Regions from separate parts of the Homo sapiens genome. Here region 1 is linked to region 2. The links come from fine-mapping of genetic effects on gene expression. A gene starts in region 2. The other region holds a variant in brackets. All regions are shown on one strand. Distances are from middle to middle. Region 1 has its middle 11 kb from the start of INO80D. Region 2 holds the start of EEF1B2 (eukaryotic translation elongation factor 1 beta 2).

Evidence for each region.
Region 1: its variant is fine-mapped to the expression of EEF1B2 in lung (TOPMed, PIP 0.94).

The regions. Positions count from the first base shown.
Region 1 is chr2:206,094,671-206,100,052 of GRCh38, reverse strand. No RefSeq gene overlaps it. Among named protein-coding and RNA genes, the nearest start is that of INO80D, 11 kb to the right of the region's middle. The variant A/T (reference allele first, on the strand shown) is at 2,380.
Region 2 is chr2:206,156,887-206,162,268 of GRCh38, reverse strand. EEF1B2 (eukaryotic translation elongation factor 1 beta 2) reads right to left here and starts at 2,374. Exons shown (of 6, transcript NM_001959.4): 1 at 2,210-2,374; 2 at 1,559-1,681; 3 at 797-923; 4 at 165-231. The coding sequence starts at 2,289. It overlaps NDUFS1 (NADH:ubiquinone oxidoreductase core subunit S1), which reads left to right and starts at 2,825. Exons shown (of 19, transcript NM_005006.7): 1 at 2,825-2,928. It overlaps SNORD51 (small nucleolar RNA, C/D box 51), which reads right to left and starts at 388; the gene lies at 319-388. SNORA41 (small nucleolar RNA, H/ACA box 41) reads right to left here and starts at 41; the gene lies at 1-41. RefSeq lists a silencer at 2,038-2,107 and enhancers at 2,368-2,627, 2,738-3,147.

The sequences.
Region 1 (5,382 bases), 62 kb after region 2:
CTGAGGCAAGAGGATCACTTGAATCAAGGAGTTCAAGAGCAGCCTGGGCAACACAGCAAGACTCCATCTCTACTAAAAAATAAAAAATAGCCAGGCATGGTGGTTCAAGTCAGCAGTCCCAATTACTTGAGAGGCTGAGGTAGGAGGATCACTTGTGTCTAGGAGTTCAAGGCTGCAGTGAGCTGTGATTGTGCCACTGCACTCCAGCTTGGCAACAGAGTGAGAACCTGTCTCAAAAAAAGAAAAGAAAAAAGAAAAAGAACATTAGTGGGAAACTGGTGAAATCTGAATATGTCTGTACTTAACAACAAGATGACAATAAGATACACTTGAATTATTTCTCTCTAGAATTGGGCTAGTCTATGTAATCTTAAGCAATTCACTTGCTAGTACTTGTTTTTTCCAATTGTTAAGATGAAAAGTGTCTGTAATGTGCTTTAAGATTCTTAGCTGAAATAGTAACAGTTATGTTGCTTACTGTTTTCATTTTAATAATTCTATTTTCCTTTAAGGGAGCTTAATTTTGGAAGAGTTAGTGTGCTTCAAGAGCCTTTTTTTTTTTTTTGACGGAGTCTTGCTCTGTCGCCCAGGCTGGAGTGCAGTGGGGTAATCTCGGCTCACTGCAACCTCCGCCTCCTGGATTCAAGAGTTTCTCCTGTCTCAGCCTCCCGAGTAGCTGGGATTACAGGCGCACACTACCACGCCCAGCTACTTTTTTGTATTTTAGTAGAGACGGGATTTCACCGTGTTGCCCAGGCTGGTCTTGAACTCCTGAGCTCAGGCAACCCAGCCACCTTGGCCTCCCAAAGTGCTAGGATTAAAGGCGTGAGCCACCGCGCCCGGCCTGCTTCAAAAGACTTAACATGCAGTCCGCGAGGTGGCTCACGCCTGTAATCCCAGCACTTTGGGAAGCCGAGGCGGGCGGATCACTTGAGGTCAGGAACAACCTGACCAACATGAAGAAACCCCGTCTCTACTAAAAATACAAAATTAGCCGGGCGTGGTGGCACGTGCCTGTAATCCTAGCTACTCCGGAGGCTGAGGCAGGAGAATCCCTTGAACACAGGAGGCGGAAGTTGCGGTGAGCCAAGATTGCGCCATTGCGCTCCAGCCTGGGCAACAAGAGTGAAACTCTGTCTTAGAAAAAAAAAAGACTTAACATGCCACAACATTATAATAATTTTGATGCAGTAGTATAGATTAATGAAAGTAAATATATGCTGGGCATGGTGGCACATGTCTATAATCCCAGCTAATTGGCAGGATTGCTTGAGCCCAGGAGCTCGAGACCAGCCTGGGCAACGTATTGAGACCCTGTCTCTACAAAAAGAAAAACAAAAAAATTAGCCATGCATAGTGGGGCACCTGTGGTCCCAGCTACTCACCGCTTAGGAGGCTGAAGTGGGAGGATCACTTGAGCCTGGGAGGTCGGGACTGCAGTGAGCCAAGATCTGCACTCCAGCCTGGACAACAGAGCACGACTCTGTCAAAAAAAAAAGAGTTCTTTTTTCTTTTTGAGACGGAGTCTCGCTCTGTCTCCCAGGCTGGAGTGCAGTGGCCCGATCTCGGCTCACTGCAGGCTCCGCTCCCCAGGTTCACGGCATTCTCCTGCCTCAGCCTCCCGAGTAGCTAGGACTACAGGCGCCTGCCACCTCGCGCGGCTAATTTTTTGTACTTTTAGTAGAGACAAGGTTTCACCGTGTTAGCCAGGATGGTCTCGATCTCCTGACCCCGTGATCCGTCCGCCTCGGCCTCCCAAAGTGCAGGGATTACAGACGGGCACTTGCACCCGGCCGATTCATTGAGTTCTGTACTGAAAGACAGAATAGTTGTATGGTTACCATGGTAAAGCTGAAAAATCCTAAGTCAAACCATGGTAAATCAGGGACCATCTGTACTAAGTCGTCCAGTTTTTTTTTTTTTTTTTCTTTTGAGACACAGTCTTGATCTGCCGCCCAGGCTAGAGTGCAATGGCACGATATTGGCTAACTGCCACCTCCGCCTCCTGGGTTCAAGCAAGTCTCCTGGTTCAGCCTCCGGAGTAGCTAGGAGATTACAGGTGCCTGCCACCACGCCCAGCTAATTTTTGTATTTTTAGTAGAGACGTGGTTTCACCATGTTGGCCAGGCTGGTGTCGAACTTCTGACCTCAGGTGATCCACCTGCCTCAGTCTCCCAAAAGTGTTGGGCTTACAGGCGTGAGCCACCGTGCCCGGCCCAATCTTCCTGCCTCAGTATCCAAGTGATGGGATTATAGGCATGAGCCTCTGCGTCCAGCCAACACTTCATTGTAAAATGACTTTGTGTTTAATGATTCTGCCCAGTTGTAGGCTATTGTAAGTGTTCCAAGCTCATTTAAGGTAGGCTAGGCTAAGCTATG[A/T]TGTTTGGTGGATTAGGTACATTAAATGCATTTTTTATTTAAGAATATTCCCAATTCGCAATAGGTTTATCATGATGTGACCCCATAACACCTGTACATTGTGGAGGCTTTTTGTTATTGGTTTGGTGTTTGCTTTTTGCTTTTATTTCAGAATAAGGAGTTAGCATGTGTGACATAGTAAGAAATAGATATATATGTGTATATATATAGAGAGAGAGATATGTATATATATGTGTATCTATCTATCTATCTATTTGGACTTTGTCCCTGATTTTTGACACAGAGCTCTTAAAACTGCCATTTCTTGAGTGATAGGGATGATAGGAGCGTCGTTTGTTCTAATATTTGGTCTCTGTCCCCAGTTTCCGACACAGAGCTCCTTAATCTCTTGGAATTTCCTGGTTGATAGAAGCATCTTTTGTTCTACTGAGGTTTCTTGCTGGGGCCCTAGATAGCTTCAGGATGGGGCCTGGTCACCAGAAAGACTAGACCTTGATGAGAAGCCTGGAACTTTCAGCCCATCCCCTCAATATGTGGGGAAGTGTGAAGAGCTGAAGACTGAGTTAATAATTGGTCATCCTGATTTGACAAAACCTCCATAAAAACCCCTAATGACAGGTTCAGTGAGCTTCTGGGTTGGTGAACACATCAAATTGCTAGGAGGGTGGTGTGCCCAGAGAGGGCGCGGGGCTTCCAACACCCCTGCCAATATCTTGCTCTCTGCATCTCTTCTGTTTGGCTGTTCCCAAGTTATATCTTTTATAAAGAGCCAGTAAATATTAATATAAGAGTGCTCCTGAGTTCTGTGAGTCATTGTAGCAAATTATCAAGCTGAAGGGGAGAAAGTTGTGGGAACTCCCTGACTTTGTACCCAAGAAGTGTGTGTGGGTAACCTGGGGACCCAATACTTGCGAATGGCATTGGAATTGAGGACTCTTTAAAACCTGTGGAGTCTGCTGCTAATGCTGGGCCGTTAATGTTAGAATTGAATTGAATTGTAGGATACCCCGTTGGTGTCCGGAAAGTTGGAGAATTGGTTGGTGTGAGAAAAAATTCACACATTTGATGTCAGAATTTCTGAGGAAAAATAGCTCGGCATGTAAAACCATAAATACACAAAATCCTTTCAGACAGCTTAAAAGAATGCACATGTTCCAAGTTTTCTGAACTCAAGTCAAGATAAAGAGATAGAAGCAAAAATGAACTCAGTAATGTATTACTCTAATAGTTTGATTCAGAGAAAATAAAAACTCCCTTCTAACAGGAAAAAAAAAAGACAAATGGCCTGCATAGTGCAGTTACGTGAGCTTTCTAATAATGCAAACGGCAGTCTGTTATTTCCCTACAATTTTTTTTCTTAGCTTCATTTCAGAGAGGACACAAACCGTAGAAATTGAATGATAACTTATCATATCATTGATCATCATTGTATGAAGTGTTCAGTTTGCAGCTCATAAATTTAGGTAACATCATTTTTCCCCTCCTCCTCAATAGAGAGAGACATAATGGTTACTGTCTAGCTCAACGCTGGCTTAACGGCCTCCTCTGAGGTTAATGTTAACATCATTCTGGACAGGGCAACAGGAAGCATCTGTATATCTTACCACAAAATGAGATGATCCATTTTCCCCCCATTTGAAATATAAATTCTGTTGGTATTAAATTACTTAATTGCTCTTGCTTTATATATACATTTAAAATATTTAGATATATTGTAGTAATAGCCTTAGAGAAAATTAAAATGACTTATGATTATGTAAATATTCCTTTAGTTTTTCCCAGTTGGTCAATATAGGTTCTTATTTTTTTTCTCTCTATGATTTAAAGGAAACTTGGGTTATGAAGGCTATTCTTACAATCTTTTTTTGTTCTTATGTTCTAGAACCACTGATGGTGACAACAGAACTCAGGGAATGTTAGTCAATTAACAGCTGCCAAGTTACCCAGAGAAGCAGATGGTATATCTGATCATGTCCTACAAAATGTGAAAAGGGAATACTCAAAGATGTTTGCTCAAATATGCTAGAGTTTCCACACAAAAGGCTATAATGGCAACCATATATATTTTTACATCTTCTATGTTTGCTTTTTACTCCAGGTGATTCTCTTATATTCCATTTTTAAATTTTTTGACCTGTACGGCTAGTCATCTTAAAATAACCTAGGATATGCACACGTTTTAAGTATCTTTGGCAATAGAAATGCACAACAGAAATATGTCAATAGAAAAGAAAAAGAATACTTAATACCACTCCCAGGTTTTTAAACTAGAGTATGGCCAATTGGAATATAATGCTTGAGGGTGGCTGAAATAACTAGAATTACACAGATATTTTGCTAATCATCTTGGACTTTTGTAGTGAGATGGTTAGAAAGTCCATGCTCAATTCCTCAGAGTCCTTCTCATTTAACCATCTAAAAGCCATACCTTAATTATCAAATAGTAAAGAATCCAAAATCTCAAATATTCATTAATCCAACAAATATTTACGGTGTATATTTCATCCCAGGCAGTGTTCAAGAGGCCAAATGAACAAACTAGACAAAAACAAAACAAAAAAAGACAAAATCTCCAGGCTTCGTGGAGCTTATATTTTCAAAAGCTTATATTTATAAAAGCTTACATATCAAGAGGATCTATATAAAAATAAATAACCCTAAAACAATAATTCTTTTGTCTCTTGCCAGACTGAAGACACTCGCAGGCAGGAGCTGTTTCCCCAATATCCTTACCACCTGTGCCTAGCACACTGTAAGTGATTTATAGACACTTCTTGAATACGTATGTATGTATCTATTATTATTAAAAAAATTTTTTTCAACCTTTTCAGCTCAAGCGATCCTCCTGCCTCAGCCTCCCAAATAGCTGGGACTACAGGCTCATGCCACCACAAGTGGCATATACACACACACACACACACACACACGTAGACACACACACATATACACATACACATATACACACATACATATATACATATGTGTGTGTGTGTGTGTGTGTGT
Region 2 (5,382 bases):
ACTGCTACCATAAGAACAGCTGCAGACCAGTAGCTGTGGAAGAACCTGTACAGGTTTTAAAATATTGACCTATTCAAGGAATGTGGAGGAAATTACTTCAAGGTCAAGCTTTGAAAAAGATTACTTACATTAACATGAAATGAAGTTAAAAACAAATGACCTACTTTTGGCTTTCTTTGATTCATATTGTGCAAGACGTTCTTCCCTTAGCCTCTTTGCTTCTTCACTTTCCTGTAAAGAAAAAAAATTAATCCACTTCAGAAAGCTGGTTGTTCCTCTGCTTAAAGCTAGTGGGGTCATCACAAAAAAGACTGGCTTAATCAGAAAAAAGCAAATCCATCACGAACTCAGCCGAAAGATGGTGATTTGATTTTATTCATCATGCAACCAGTCAGAATTTGAAAAAGGCATATAAATTAAAGCCAGGATTCAAATCCAGGCAATTTGGCTTAACCACATTGATACAATTGCTGATCGATGTATTCTTTTTTTTTTTTTTTGGGACGGAGTCTCGCTCTGTCGCCCAGGCTGGATGCAGTGGCACGATCTTGGCTCACTGCAACCTCCGCTTCCTAGGTTCAAGCAATTCTCTGCCTTAGCCGCCTGAGTAGCTGGGATTACAGATGCCTGCCACATTTTTTTGTATTTTTAGTACAGACAGGGTTTCACCATCTTGGCCAGGCTGGTCTTCAACTCCTGACCTCGTGATCCACCCGCCTCAGCCTCCCAACATGCTGGGATTACAGGCATGAGCCACTGCGCCTGGCCGATATGTTCTTTATAGAAGACGCCATACCTCCTCATCATCAGATCCAAAGAGGTCAATGTCATCATCATCTTTACTATCTGTAGCTCCACTTCCTGTAGTGTCTTCCACATCGGCAGGACCATATTTGCCCAAAGCTTTCTTCACTCCTGGCAGGCTTGAAAAACATTTAAATTCAACCACTATTGAGCTAGTATAACATCCTTTTCCAGAAAATACAAAATAACTTGTTTTAATCACTACTTATCACTAGATCCCTTTTGCAATCATAATTTACCCTTTCACATGCGCCCAGGTAAACACTGTCATATGTTCAACTCCTCACCCGACAAGCATTAGTACCATGTGAGACATTATTTTCAATACTCACTATGATTTACTCTTTCAGTATGAACATTTCTGTTTGAGATTTCATTAAGTATGCTCAGTTCCATTCTTAGTGAACTGGAGTCCACTTCCCCAAACTTCCACCCTTGTTGGCAGTTTCAGAAGAATGGCCAAGGACTGAATGAATGAGCCACCCTCTCACCCCAGAGGTGGGCCCCCCAGGTCAAGGTCGAGGCACATTGGCAGGGCAGTGTGGGGAAAAGTTGAATTGCTGCTGTCCATGTTCTACCTGTTCTGTGAAAAAATGGAGGGCTTCAGTCTCTTGGCCTTCTAAGGTTACAGAAAAATTTAGCTTACAATATCCCAACAAAACTAAAGTAGCCTGGGTCCAGTTTTGTCATGTGAACATCCTGATAAACTTCGAGAGCAGTCTTATTCTTCAGCTCTATACAAAGATGATTTTACCTGGCCTTTTCCTTTTCGTAAGACTTGATGTGATTATACCAACGTAGGGCATGACACAAGTCGGCAGGCGGTGGGCTGGACACGGCTTCAAATACTGCCACATCTGCTTGTGATGGCACATACCTGCCAAGGACACAGAAACATTCACACACACCTTTGAAAAACAAACGCCAGCGAATAAATAATAAATACCGTATGCATCACATTAATTAGTGGGCACTAACCCCAGCAGGGTTGCTTTAATGCTTTTCTTTTCTTATTAGCTCCTTCAAATCAAACCATATGTTTGGGTCACCGCGCTATCCTGAGAAATGTCTGCCACTAAGTAGACCTCAAATACTGCAATGTCTGGCGTTGCTCTATCTACAGCTTAACATGTATTAACTGGGCAGCGATGCGGAAACACCTGGCTGAATTAAGTGTAAATAAAGCACATTTTAACCTTTCCTTGCTCGTGAACCGCTCCCCGGAGGCCGGGCTCGCCCCACACGAGGGCCTTGGGAGACGGCAACGGGGCGCTTTCCCCTCCCTCTCGAAAGGGCCCCGGGCCCGGCCTCCCTCCCTCCCGCGGCAGCCGACACGCTGCGCCACGTGGCCCCGGCCCCGGGCGGAGAAACCTCCCCGCCACCCCGACTCAGCCCGTCCGCTCACCCCTCGATGTAGCTCTTGTCCGCCAGGTAATCGTTGAGCACCTGGAGGCCGGCAGGGCTTTTCAGGTCTCCGAAACCCATGGTGTCGGCTGTATCCGAGAGCTGGGGAGCAGCAGAAAGAGAGCGCGCAAATTGTGGGCGCCCCACGCTGAAGAGAGGAAAAAGGACCCGAAGAGACCGGAAAATTCCTTATATAGAGACGGAGGCGTTTCCCTCCACCGCGCCGGACCGAAGGTTAAAGGTCAAAGTACTTTTGCATTCCCACTTCTCCACGTACGAATTGGGGGCCCTGAATTAAATGGCCCACAAATTGTCCATGGACCTTTCGTTGCGTTTGGAAGTAAATTAATAAAATAGGCATGTCTTAAGTTCGTACCTCCACGGCTCCCGAAGATGACGGGAACCAGCCCTAGAAGCGCCGGAGATGACCGAAGACGCCCGGCCTCGAGGCTGGGGCCACTTCCGGCGGAACTGCGGGTCCAAGTTGTCCTTCCCGCCTCCGGGCTGGGCCGACCTCAGCTCCGCCCTCTGGTCGGCTGACGGAAATTGCCGACAAACTTGTCGAATGCAAGGATTCTAGTCCCTCCGGGCTTTCCGTTCTCCAGGCCCGGCTGACAGAGTTAGCCGAGGCCGCCATATTGAATAAGCGACCCGGCCTCCTAGGGGGTCGTCGTGGTCCAGACAGTTTAGCAGAACAGCCTCCGCGGCTCCGGGGAGAAGGTGAGGTCTTGTATGGATGGGAAGGGTGAGGTGCGTCGGCCAGAGGCTTATTTATTGACGGGACTGTTTCCTTTGGCCCACGCGACGTAGTCTTCTGTTGTCCTTGACTGGGCGCCGCCTCCCGCCCCGCCGCCTCGGAAGCCCCTGAGAGCCGGCAGATGGGGGGCTTTTAGCCACGGTCTCTGGTCTGATGAAGCAGAAAAGAAGATGAGGATCAGGGGGTCCTCGGGAACGCTGTCACGAATGTAGGCTTGCAGGTGACCTTCCCTCTGCAGGGAAAATTCAGGACATTTCCCTCTCAGAGGAGGAGGCCGTTTTATTCCCCGGGAGAGGACCAGTGTCCGATGACTTAGGCCTTAAGACTAAGCCTTTCCCCCCAGATTTTTACACGCCTGATACAGTGCATGATTGTTTGGTCGCTGTTGTGTTAGCAATGGCTCACGCTTCTGTTTGTTGTCCTTGTTTGTTTGGTCCATTGACCACGTTGGACAGCATTTTTTTATTCCTTTAACTAACGGGAAATTGAGAAAAACGACTTTTGAAAAGTTAGCCCAGGATTGCATTGCAAATAACAAAACGTTGTTTACAGGTTATTGGGATCCAGTGCTTGAACTGTAAGGTCTTGGATCAGACACAACTCTGTTCACACACGAATTGACGGTATAGAAGTGTAACGTTAACTGTTTTTGATGAATAAACAAGTTATTTTTGTTTTGCGGAATATTCTTGTTTTCACCGACTTAAGGCTGCCAGAGCACCTGCACTTTTTAAATCCGGGAAAGTGGTCTCTACAAATTAACGACCAGAAATTAGAGATTCAGTTCACTTAACCGTTATTGAACATTTACTACGAGCCAGAAATGAGTCCGTAAAGAAGAATAAAATGGATGATATGCTGGGGGAATCGTAAATGTTAGATAGCCTGGTCAATGAAACTGAGAAAAGGCTTTTAAGCCAAGATTTGAAGGATAAGGAGGGGCCAGGGAAGAGCATTTCAGTCTGAGGTCACAGCCGGTGGCAAGAGGGGAGAGGCTGTGTGGGAATAGTGTGGAAGCTTGGTGACCTGTTAAGCTATTGAAGGCCGGAGGCGGTGGCTCACTCCTGTAATCCCACCACTTTGGGAGGCCGAGGCGGGCGGATCACGAGGCCAGGAGATCGAGACCATCCTGGCTAACACGGTGAAACCCTGTCTCTACTAAAAATACAAAAAATTAGCTGGGCGTGGTGGCGGGCGCCTGTAGTCCAGCTACTTGGGAGGCTGAGGCAGGAGGCTGGCGTGAACCCGGGTGGCGGGGCTTGCAGTGAGCCGAGATCGCTCCGCTGCACTCCAGCCTGGGCGACAGAGCGAGACTCTGTCTCAAAAAAAAAAAAAAAAAAGCTATTGAAATACTCCAGGCAAGGAGTGATGGTGGATTGGGATAGGGTGGTACCTTGGAAGGCAAGAAGTAAATGGATGGATCCATGTTGGAGAACGTGGAATAGCATAGTCCCTATATGGAAAAGTATCCAGTCTAGTTTAAGAAATGATTAGTCATTAACATTTTCCATCCAAAGAGATAATTATTTCTATTGCTACTTGGCATATCAATGTTCAAAGCACATATCGAAGTGTTGCAAATCTGTATTTCTTATGTTGGGCTATGCTTTGTTGCTGGATGTCAACAGTCTAGTTCTAGTTGATTTCCTATCCAAAGTGAGTACTATTTTTATATTGCATTGGAGATAAAAAAGTATTAAAGTTTTAAAATTGTATGAAATACTGATTGTTGATTTCAAATCTGTCAGTGCTCTAATGGAGTAAGTTTAGGTTTATATTTATGCCATCAGTAGTTTTTAATAGGACAGATGCTACTCTAGTTCTAGAACTTGGTGATAAGACTGTTTGGTGGTTATTTTCATAAGGGTCCTGTGCTAGGTCTTCAAAAAAGGGAAATGTCCAAATTCCTTGTCCTCAAGGAGCTTACAGTCTGGTAGGTACTAAAATTGATTACTAACCTACAGTTTAGTAAGTAAAACAAAAATATCTACACAGTGTGTACTGGTACTAAAGAAAAAGAGCTCAAAGAAAGAGTGCTTTAAAATTGGTTGTCTGCCAGGCGCGGTGACTCACGTCTGTAATCCCAACACGTTGGGAGGTCGACGCGGGTGGATCACTGAGGTCAGGAGTTTGAGACCAGCCTGGCCAACATGGCGAAACCCCTTCTCTACTGAAAATACAAAAATTAGCCGGGCGTGATGACAGGTGCCTGTAATCCCAGCTACTTGGGAGGCAAGAGAATTGCTTGAACTTGGGAGGCGGAGGTTGCAGTGAGTCAAGATCACACCATTGCACTACAACCTGGGTGACAGAGTGAGACTCTGTCTCAAAACACACACACATACTGATTGTCAGTGGCCAGTATTGCCTAAGTTGAATTCAGCTTTAACTGGCATTTGTTGAGCCCCTACTAATAG